Homo sapiens: one gene and its partners. The protein of the gene in region 3 purifies or fractionates together with the protein of the main gene of each other region. This does not show direct contact. Each region holds a gene or a part of one and is shown on either strand. Other genes may lie near its edges.

Region 1 (3,655 bases), on a different chromosome or scaffold from region 3:
GGTCATACTAAGTGCTTGTTAGTTGACCAGTGGTGCATTAATCTCCCAGAAGCCATCGCGATTGTTATCGGTTCACTCTTGGTGTTAACCATGCTAACATGCCTCATAATAATCATGCAGAATAGACTTTCTGTACCTCGTCCATTTTCTCGACTTCAGCTACAAGAAGATGATGATGATCCTTTAATTGGGTGACATGTGCTAGGGCTTATACAAAGTGTCTTTGATTAATCACAAAACTAAGAATACATCCAAAGAATAGTGTTGTAACTATGAAAAAGAATACTTTGAAAGACAAAGAACTTAGACTAAGCATGTTAAAATTATTACTTTGTTTTCCTTGTGTTTTGTTTCGGTGCATTTGCTAATAAGATAACGCTGACCATAGTAAAATTGTTAGTAAATCATTAGGTAACATCTTGTGGTAGGAAATCATTAGGTAACATCAATCCTAACTAGAAATACTAAAAATGGCTTTTGAGAAAAATACTTCCTCTGCTTGTATTTTGCGATGAAGATGTGATACATCTTTAAATGAAAATATACCAAAATTTAGTAGGCATGTTTTTCTAATAAATTTATATATTTGTAAAGAAAACAACAGAAATCTTTATGCAATTTGTGAATTTTGTATATTAGGGAGGAAAAGCTTCCTATATTTTTATATTTACCTTTAATTAGTTTGTATCTCAAGTACCCTCTTGAGGTAGGAAATGCTCTGTGATGGTAAATAAAATTGGAGCAGACAGAAAAGATATAGCAAATGAAGAAATATTTTAAGGAAACCTATTTGAAAAAAAAAGCAAAGACCATTTGATAAAAGCCTGAGTTGTCACCATTATGTCTTAAGCTGTTAGTCTTAAAGATTATTGTTAAAAAATTCAGAAGAAAAGAGAGACAAGTGCTCTTCTCTCTATCTATGCTTAATGCCTTTATGTAAGTTACTTAGTTGTTTGCGTGTGCCTGTGCAAGTGTGTTTGTGTGTGGTTGTGTGGACATTATGTGATTTACTATATAAGGAGGTCAGAGATGGACTGTGGCCAGGCTTCCACATTCCTGAAGCACACAGATCTCAGGAAAGGTTATTTTTGCACTTCATATTTGTTTACTTTCTCCTAACTCACAAGTTAAAATCATAACTTAATTTCATTAACTTTTATCATTTAACTCTCTCATGTTTGTTGTAACCTGAGGTATCCAAATGCTACAGAAAAATTTATGACCCAAATACAAATCTCAATTTGACTGGGACAGAATGAGGAATGGAGATTTTTGTATTTATCTTTGGGACTTTATGCCTTACTTTTTAGGCTATAGAATAGTTAAGAAATTTTAAACAAAATTTAGTATCTTTTGGTCTTTCACACCATTCATATGTTAAGTGGCAGAATAGCCTTAGTGCTACCTCCACTTTTTTCTCCAGTATTTGCATCACAGAAATAATCCCTCTGTTTAACATGTTTGTTCAGAGCCAAGGGTTTATTGTGAAGAACTGTCATCCTGCCTTTGCTAGCTGGTACCTTCTAGTAATCAAAATTAATATGAAGAAACTAGGTTGTGACAGACTAGATTATATTTAGTAGGGGAAAAATTGGGCTCAAGAACCATTCATCAGTACGTGAGACAAGCAGTTAATAGTATGATCTTTAAAGTTTTGACAATATAAAATAAACTTGGTAACTGTTTTACAAATATAAAAGTATAATAAATATGCAGCCCAGTTAAATATTGATTATCTGTGATGGTAAAGAACAACAGTGGTGCCAGTCATCAAACATACAGTGCGTCCTATTGAGTCACTGCTAATTTCTTGAGCCTGGTATTTGCTGCCTATTGTATTTGTGGTTGTTGAGAGGCATTTTCAAACCCTGTATAAATAATCCATGCTGTTGGTCATAAGTTAACTGTATTAAGAACAGTAAAATAAATAAAAACCAATAGTACTAATTTTGCTTTAAAAAAATTTCTAATTTTTTTCACATAAAACAATTATCCTAAAGGTTAATAGTTGATCGAAACAGAATAATAGAAAAATTCTACTTTAATTTCCATTAAAAAGCAAATAGCATTGACACATTTAAAGCTTTTCATTTAAAGTAGTGGATGTTTTTGAAGTATCTAAAATAGTAGCAGAATATTTTATACTTGGTCCTTGCAATGGTGTGAGTTTTAATGATTGCATTATCGTGATTGGTGGTTATGAGTTTCAGAAATCTATACTTGGCATCCAACTCATGAGTGGATTTTATATAGGATGGAACAGGAAGGTATGTCCTGTCAGTATCTTAACCCTTTCAACAAGACATTTACCTATTTGTCTTTCCTTACGTTCTCAAAATATTAACTCGAATTGTAAATTAAGCAAAAATTTAAAAAGTATATGTTGATGGGACAAGAAGAATAGTATTTATTTAATAAAACATATATTATATTGAACTATGTGTTAATTCATTTGTATCTTTTAAAAAATTATCACTGTTAAAGCCATTGACTCCTTTAGTACACTGAGAAAAATCTTATAGTAAAACTAGCCTTTCACATTAAGGTTTTGGTGTGTATTTTGTTAAATAACTAACATGCTGCTCTATTTTCTGGGTGTAGAAAGTATTTGGCTCTAGGAAACATTTACTTGTTTGTGAAAACAATACCCCAAGGTAATAGGAAAAGTTTGAGTTAAGTGTTTTTAATTCAGTCAGTGAATTCAGAATAAGTACATTCATGTATAACATAGGGACAGTTCTGCTGCTGTTATTTATATGCAATTCTTCTGGTAAATAGCAATAGAATAAAACATATTTCAATGTTTGTGTATAGGTTTTATATTATTATTCCACTAGGAATGGCATAAGAATTTATAGATAAATTCTTGTAACATTAAAGGATTAAAATGTTTTTACATTGTTTTTGGGTGTCTCCTTCTTGTGCCCATATCTGATAAGCTTTATGGATTATTGCATTTAATTCCTTTTATTTGGAGGGTTTTACTTCCTTGTTAACATATAAAGTTATAAATGAAGGACAAGGAGGAGATGGAAAATGTGTATTTATTGTTAATTCTTAAAATAGTGTGTAAATAAAATAACATCAGTGTGCTTTAAAGAAATGTGTATGTAGTGCCTTAATTTAAATTAAAATATTTTTGACTGTTACTTGAGTTCAGAATTAATGACTTTGTTCATGATTTTTAAAATGTGTGTGAATAAAATCTACCAAAAAATTCTTACTGTAATTATTAAATATAAAGTTCAGTGTCACTGGTGATTTTTACATTTGTTACCTTCTTGCAAAATATACTTACTGTGCTAGATGTTGACATGACTTAGTAATATTATAGAAGCCCACATAGGTGTTTATTAGGATTTTTTAACTCTTTAACAAAAAGTTTAAAACAGTGTGTAAGTATACAATCCAGCATAAGAACATCATTGGAAAGAAAGCCAAGATAAGTTTTATAGAACCTCCAGAGCTATGATTTATTGGCTTATGGTAGAAGAGAAGAGGTTTGAAAAAAACCGATTATAAAATAGTGGGGATGGTAGGGGAAGCATTATAATGTTTAAACTTTGTACATAGCCATAGGCATTTAATGACTTGTCCAATTGAATATAGATTCAAGAATTCTCCTATTAGAGCAGTGATTAATTCATTTCCTATT
Region 2 (3,538 bases), on a different chromosome or scaffold from region 3:
TTCCCCCTCCCCTAAAACTAAAAGGAATGTTAAAAGACCCTTTTTCTGTGACCAGCGGACCTTATCTATGCTCCCAATTCCAATTCCTTGTGAACATACTTTGTAAAGTCCTGTAAAATCCTGTCTCTTTTGCCATGCTGCTGCAAGGTCATAAAGTAGATAAAATTAGATAAAACCTAAGTTGCAATTCTGTTTTTCCTCAAAATCTAAGACATGTCACAAAATAATTTACTGCCTTTGTTTCTCTCTCTGGTAACATCTTCCCACCACATGTATTTCCCGCCTTAAAGAGATTAAAAGGCAATCACCCAAAACCAACAGTGGCTACCCTCTCCGGACCCCTTCCATGCTGTGTAAGCTTTGTACTGTCACTCTGCTCAATAAAACCTACAGTTTTTTTCTTCTCTTGGTCTGTGTCTCCATCACTCGCCGCGGGCAGCCGCCACACCCAATTCTTTGGTGTGGCTAAGGCAAGAACGTTTGGCATTACATTTAATCTCAGAACCAGCAGGACCGCTCCCCAGGTGAAGTCACAGCAGCACCAGAAACATATACACTTTATTGAATGCCATTGTAGAAAAGCGTGTGAGGATAAAGGGCTGATGCAGGACTCGGCTGTGGGGACAGGGCGAGGAATGGAAGGTGGAGTAAGTGGAATACAGGTCAAGGGCAGAGCTCCTGGCCTCTGGGGGCAGGGCGAGGAATGGAAGATAGAGTACGTGGGATACAGGTCACGGGCAGAGCTCCTGGCCTCAATGATGCCTCCTGATCTATCGCTGGGCCTGGACGACCAACACTGGGATGATGATGAGCAGAATGGTCATGAAGATGCCCAAAATCAGGGCCCAGATGTTCAGGCACTTGGCGGTGGAGGCATAGGCCTGGGCCCCGGTCACGTCGCCAACCATCTTCCTGTCCCTAGACTGGGGGAGAGGAGATGGTGAGGGGACCAGGATCCCCCAGCTGAGAGCCGCGTGCTATGGCTCCAGCTCCTCACTGTCTCCTCCCTGCCCTGAGATCAGGGACCACCTCCTCCCCTTCCTCACCCGGCTCAGACTCTCCAGGAGCCTCGGGGCTCATCCTCCTTCTGCCTTGGCCCCAGCACAGGCTGTTCTCCCCACCATGGGGTGAAGTCACCTGTGAGTTCCCTTCTCACTTTCTGGGAGAGCCTGGGTGCCAGTCTGGAAGGTGAAGGTGTAATTTCTTACTGGGCTATAGGGAGAACTGCTCTGGGCTAGTGGATAGCCGGGGACAGACTCTGAGCCAGCCAGCCAGCCTCCTGGAGCCTCCTCCTAGACCTGCACTGGGCAGATTCCCCAAGCCACACACACACACAGATCACACAGACAAAGCCACTGACGTGGGCACACACAGGACAGACGTGCACACAAACTCACAGTCACAGGGACACACAAGTCCCCACCCCAGGCAGCATGTGGGCAGGTGGAGCCCCAGGCTCACCGGCACCCCCTGGATTTCCGCCAGGGCCATACGCACCTTCACGGAGTACGCGAATGCTATGAAGCCCAGGCAGCAGGTGTTCATGAAGAGGGTGTTGAACAGGGACCAGACCACATGGTCAGGCACGGAGGTCTCGCTGCGGATGTGGATCACGGTGGACATCGGGGGAGCAGGGTTGTGGGGCACCCCCAGCATAGCCACTTCCTGCTCCTCCTTGAGCATCTCGTAGTTGGGAGGCTGGCCGCTGTTGACAGGAGAGAAGGTTTGCACAATGTGGTTCATGGTGACCAGCGGTGATCGGGTTACCGGGATGGTTCTCAGTGAGCCCTCCCTTTCCCCAGTAGTTCCGTTTTCTCAACAGTTTCCTCTTCCTGGCATTTGTCAAATGCAGAGCTGGCCAGGGCCAGATAAGGGCAGAACAAATTCCTGAGGATCAAATTACTTTAGGAGAGGGAGGAAAGAGGGGCTGAGGGCTAAGAGGGGCTTCCTCTCTAGAGCCCAAAGGAGCACAAGTCTCATCTTGTTAGTGGTGTGGGGTCCTGGAGACTTCCCCTGTGTTGGGAGTCTCCACACCCCAGGCCAGCAGCTGCAGGACCTCACTGTCCCGGTTCAGGGCTCCTGCCAGGCCTGCGCTGACGCCTCCACACTCCAGGCCCCACAACCGTTTCCCCAAAGCCCTCACCTCTGCCGGGCGCCGTGGCTCACGCCTGTAATCCCAGCACTTTGGGAGGCTGAGGTGGGAGGATCATGAGGTCAGGAGATCGAGACCATCCTGGCTAACACGGTGAAACCCCGTCTCTACTAAATATACAAAAAAAAATTAGCCGGGTGTGATGGCGGGCACCTGTAGTCCCAGCTACTTGGGAGGCTGAGGTAGGAGAATGGCGTGAACCGGGGAGGCGGAGCTTGCAGTGAGCCAAGGTTGTGCCACTGCACTCCAGCCTGGGCAACAGAGCCAGACTCCGTCTCAAAAAAAAAAAAAAGCCCTCATCTCACTTGTCACAGGCCTCATCTGCTGACATCCCTTGTCCTTTGCTGGGGTTGCAGTCCTGCTCCATGCGGGTTTGGGGGTTAAAGGTCCCCGTGTCTCCTGGTGCAGGTCAGAGGGTTGGCGGCCAATGTTGCCTGCCCCAAAGGAGCCCTCCAGGCCCAGGAAAGGGGACTCTGGGAGCACTGACAGAAGAGGGGGCTGTGGGATGCCAATAGCAGAGACCTGGACGGTGGAGTTAGAAGCCATGGCCCTTTCCCCTGGAGGCCCACCTGGGTGACGGCTCCCAGACCCGCTCCACACAGCCCAGCAGCACCCACGCTGCCCAGAGCTCTGGCTGGCTGGTCCCTGGGGCACCCTCCAGATTTCCAGGTTCTGATCATCTCTGCCTCTTCCCTGGGTCCTCACACGGGTGCCAGCTGCTTCCTGTAGTTGCCGCCTGTTTTTCCCATGAACCGGTGCTGCCTCTGAGCAGCTCCTGAGGTTACAGCCTCCCTGTGGAAACACCTTGTGTGGCCTCTGGGCTTCTTCCTGGACCTTCCTTGGCAGAGGCTATTGCAGCAAACAGAGCTGATGCTGTGCACTTGAGCTTGTCAGAGGGGACAGTGCGGGTCACAGGGGCAGGAACGTGGCCTGCAGGCCTATGTGCACCGCGACCTGCGCCCTGTTTAATTCCTGATGTGCTACATGGGCCCATTTTCCTGGGCTTATTCTCCCACCAGGCCAGACTCCGCAGAGGACATCGCTGAGGGTGGAATTTACAGAGATGGGCAGCTGCTCACCCTGCTGTAGCCTTTCACCTCAGCGGGTGGTCAGGTCCACGTCAGTATTCCAGAGTTTACATGACGGTAGCGTGCAGCCGTGTAACTGCAGAGTGATGTGTTTGAGTAACGATGACTTTGGCTCTATAAGATAAATTTTATTGATAATTTCTAAGATTCCTAAGATTTAACTTTAACAATGGCTGTGTCTACCATCGACTCACAGTGCTTCTCGACGTCGAACACCCTAAGTCCTCCTCCTTCTGCTGGCTGGGGTGAGCTCTAAGGGCTTAGCCATGTCCAGGCCTCTACAGGCCTTCTATTCTGG
Region 3 (2,999 bases):
GCACTTTGCTGCCACCGCTGCATTCCCAGAGATCAAGCAGCCCGGTGCCGTGGCCAGTGAACTCAGAGGTGCTGGTGGACGGGCTAGGACTTTGGGGTTAGGCCATGGGGCTCTTTCTCTGAAGGCCACTTTCCTGACGTACTCTCTGTACATAACTCAGCGTCCGTGACTGCAGTAACAGCCAGCCCTACCCAGAGTATTTCTGAGCCATGAGGGGCCCACCAGATTGGTTCTGAATTGGATTCATGCCCAGCGCATTAGCATAGTAACTCCTTTCAGATTTTTTGGAGGGACGTTTGGAAGTGGCTTACTCTCTTCTGCCCTCTCTCCTACCTCCACCTTCTCAGATTAGCCCCATCTGAGCACATCCAGCTGCTCCTTACCCAGCATCTGGAGTACAGGACATAGCTCTCTCCTGCTACCAGTCTGTGCCTTAGAGGTCTGTTAGGCCTGCCAAACGGCGACCAGCTCCCCTGGAGCGAGGGCAGGCCCCTTCCCTCTCTTTCCCCAGACACCTACTTGAGACTCACCAATTTCTGGCCTGTTCAGGAGCCTCAGATAAGTATTTGTACTTGAGACCACCTCACACAATCTGTATGGGCCCAACCCTGATCTCAAACCTCCTTCCCTCTGCCCAAAGCTGTCCTTCCTATGGCAGGAGGGGTGGGGGTCCCAGGACGTGCCTCATACATGACTTGAGCTTGTCAGTCCACTGAGTTTCCTTCTACGAGATCAACGCGAGGGGCCTGTATCTTGAATTAAAACCTACTCGCTTCCTTTCTGCACTCTGTGTGCTCGATACAGAAGGCAGGTGTGCTGGCCTTCAGAGCCAGGTGCCCTGCTCCCCTCGTGTAAGGAAGCGCATAAGGTTGTGAAGGTCACTGACCCGAGAGCGCTGCGTGCTGACCCCACACTTCACTGGGGAGCCCTCTTGGGTAGCGCGAGACGCCTACCCGCCCAGGGCCAGGTCAGTCTCCCAGGCTCCGTGTCTTCACGGTTACCAGGGCACGCCACTCAATCTGGATGTGAGCCGGGGTGGATGAGGTTCTGAAGGGCACACCAGCACTGGGAGCGGGGGCAGTGGGGGTCTTATTCTCCAGACGCTTCCTCTATCTAGTTGTAACAAACGTCAAAGAATGTCAGGTCTTGTTTCTGCAGAGCAGACTTTGGCCTGACGGGGTCCACAGACCTGTTTCACTTGCAACACCCAGTAAATGTGTTACTGGGTGCCCTACTTTAAAAATCAGAGATTTCAAATGATTGACTTTTCCGGCTGAGTGCGGTGGCTCACGCCTGTAATCCCAGCACTTTGGGAGGCCAAGGCAGATGGATCACCTGACATCAGGAGTTCGAGACCAGCCTAGCCAACATTGCAAAACCCCATCTCTACTAAAGATACAAAAATTAGCTGGGCATGGTGGCGGGCACCTGTAATCCCAGCTACTTGGTTGGCTGAGGCAGGAGAATTACTTGAACCCAGGAGGCGGAGGTTGCAGTGAGCGAAGATCACGCCATTGCACTCCAGCCTGGGCAACAAGAACGAAACTCCATCTCAAAAAAAAAAAAAAATTATTGACTTTTCTTTAAAATCTGATTTGGCAGTGCTAGGTAGGTCCAGGAGTGCTAACACCTTCCCAGAGGTGGTACGCAGGTAGTCAGGTGCTCTCTGACTCACCCCCATCTGGCCAGATCACGGCCCCCAGCAACACGTGGGGTTGTGTCCCTCGCTGGGATACACGGAGTGCCCTTATAGGCAGGGAGTCTTATAGGCAGGGGTCTCTCCCAGGCACCTCTGGGTGTCCCTACGGCCCCTCCCAGGTGGGAGCTGAGGCTAGGTTGCAAAAAGGAGGTTGGGAGCAAGTAGGGGCTTCACAGTAACACCCAAGAAAGCACACGCACCCCAGGGTCCCACCCCAGTGCTCCCAGACACTCCCACAGATGTGGTTCTGGTCAGGCGCAGTGCAGCTGCTGCGGCTCCACCAGCCCCGGGCTTTCAGGCAGGTGGGCCTGGGAGTAGTTGAGCTTTGTCCCAGAACAGTGGGGGATGGGGCCATCATTAAAACCACAGCTCTGGCCCCAATATCCCACCGCCACCCCCACCCCGATATCCCAGCCCATGCCTCAGCAAAGCCCCCTGTGAATTCCAGCATTTTTATTGAGCGCACCACATCGGGGAGGGGCGGCAGTGGTTTCCACGGTAACCAAAGTAAGGCTTGTGCACTTGCTGAGCTTCCAGATGCGAATTAGTAAAAGCTAAATTCAAAAGTAGAATGGGCATCTCCAAAGAGTACGATAAAAACATTTTGTATCAAACTTGTGATTAAAAAAATACAAAAGTTAAACCCACAGGCAAAGAGGAAAATGACAATCCTGAGAGCTGCCCTGATAGGTGAGCCTCGAACCTCGTCTAAATCCGTAAGAAGGCAAACCCTGGGGAGGCCAGCACCCCTCGGGAGAGTGGGAGTGAACGCGGAGCCCACCTGGCTTCATCTGGGCAAAGCTTCGTAGCGCCTCTGGCAGGATGTGTGTCCAGTCCCCCGAGGGGCAGAGGCACTGCGGTGTGGACACACGAGGGCTGGGGGGCAGGGGCGGAGCCGAACCCTGCAGCCAGGCAAAAGCGGGAAAGGCCTGGTTCCTCCAGCATTTCCCAGCTTTTGGGGGCTCCCAAGAGATAGTGGTTCCCACTTGCCCAGCCACTGCTGTGGCCAAGCAGCAGGGTCGGACCTGAGCCTGTGGTCACAGCAGACTGGCTACTACTCAGCTCCAGGCCCTTATTTCCAATCCTCGGTGTCCAGGAGAGAAAGCCGGTCCCAGAGGCCCCAGGCCAGGGATGGGAGAAGGGAAGGAAGGCCAGGCCAGGCCTCTGGGACCAGCTATAGCCCTTCTGAGCTGGGGCCCAGCGGTCAGCAGAAGCCAGATGGGGACAGAGTGTGGAAGTGGCGTTACTGTACAGAGAGGCGGCAGGCAGGAGTCGCAGATGGTGGTGGCTGCTAGGACAG

Evidence for each region.
Region 1: the proteins of CTNS (region 3) and ENPP4 fractionate together in Homo sapiens (co-fractionation; one large-scale study listed by BioGRID). This does not show direct contact.
Region 2: the proteins of CTNS (region 3) and IFITM2 fractionate together in Homo sapiens (co-fractionation; one large-scale study listed by BioGRID). This does not show direct contact.

Annotation. Positions count from the first base shown.
Region 1 is NC_000006.12:46,143,446-46,147,100, forward strand, and holds the end of ENPP4 (bis(5'-adenosyl)-triphosphatase ENPP4 precursor), read left to right. Parts: coding exon 1-195; 3' UTR 196-3,243; downstream 3,244-3,655. UniProt on the Homo sapiens protein: Hydrolyzes extracellular Ap3A into AMP and ADP, and Ap4A into AMP and ATP. Ap3A and Ap4A are diadenosine polyphosphates thought to induce proliferation of vascular smooth muscle cells.
Region 2 is NC_000011.10:306,398-309,935, reverse strand, and holds IFITM2 (interferon-induced transmembrane protein 2), read right to left. Parts: upstream 2,121-3,538; 5' UTR 1,744-2,120; coding exon 1,498-1,743; intron 924-1,497; coding exon 771-923; 3' UTR 541-770; downstream 1-540.
Region 3 is NC_000017.11:3,660,758-3,663,756, forward strand, and holds the end of CTNS (cystinosin isoform 2 precursor), read left to right. Parts: 3' UTR 1-2,346; downstream 2,347-2,999. Other genes in the region: TAX1BP3 (tax1-binding protein 3), read right to left, coding at 2,991-2,999. UniProt on the Homo sapiens protein: Cystine/H(+) symporter that mediates export of cystine, the oxidized dimer of cysteine, from lysosomes. Plays an important role in melanin synthesis by catalyzing cystine export from melanosomes, possibly by inhibiting pheomelanin synthesis.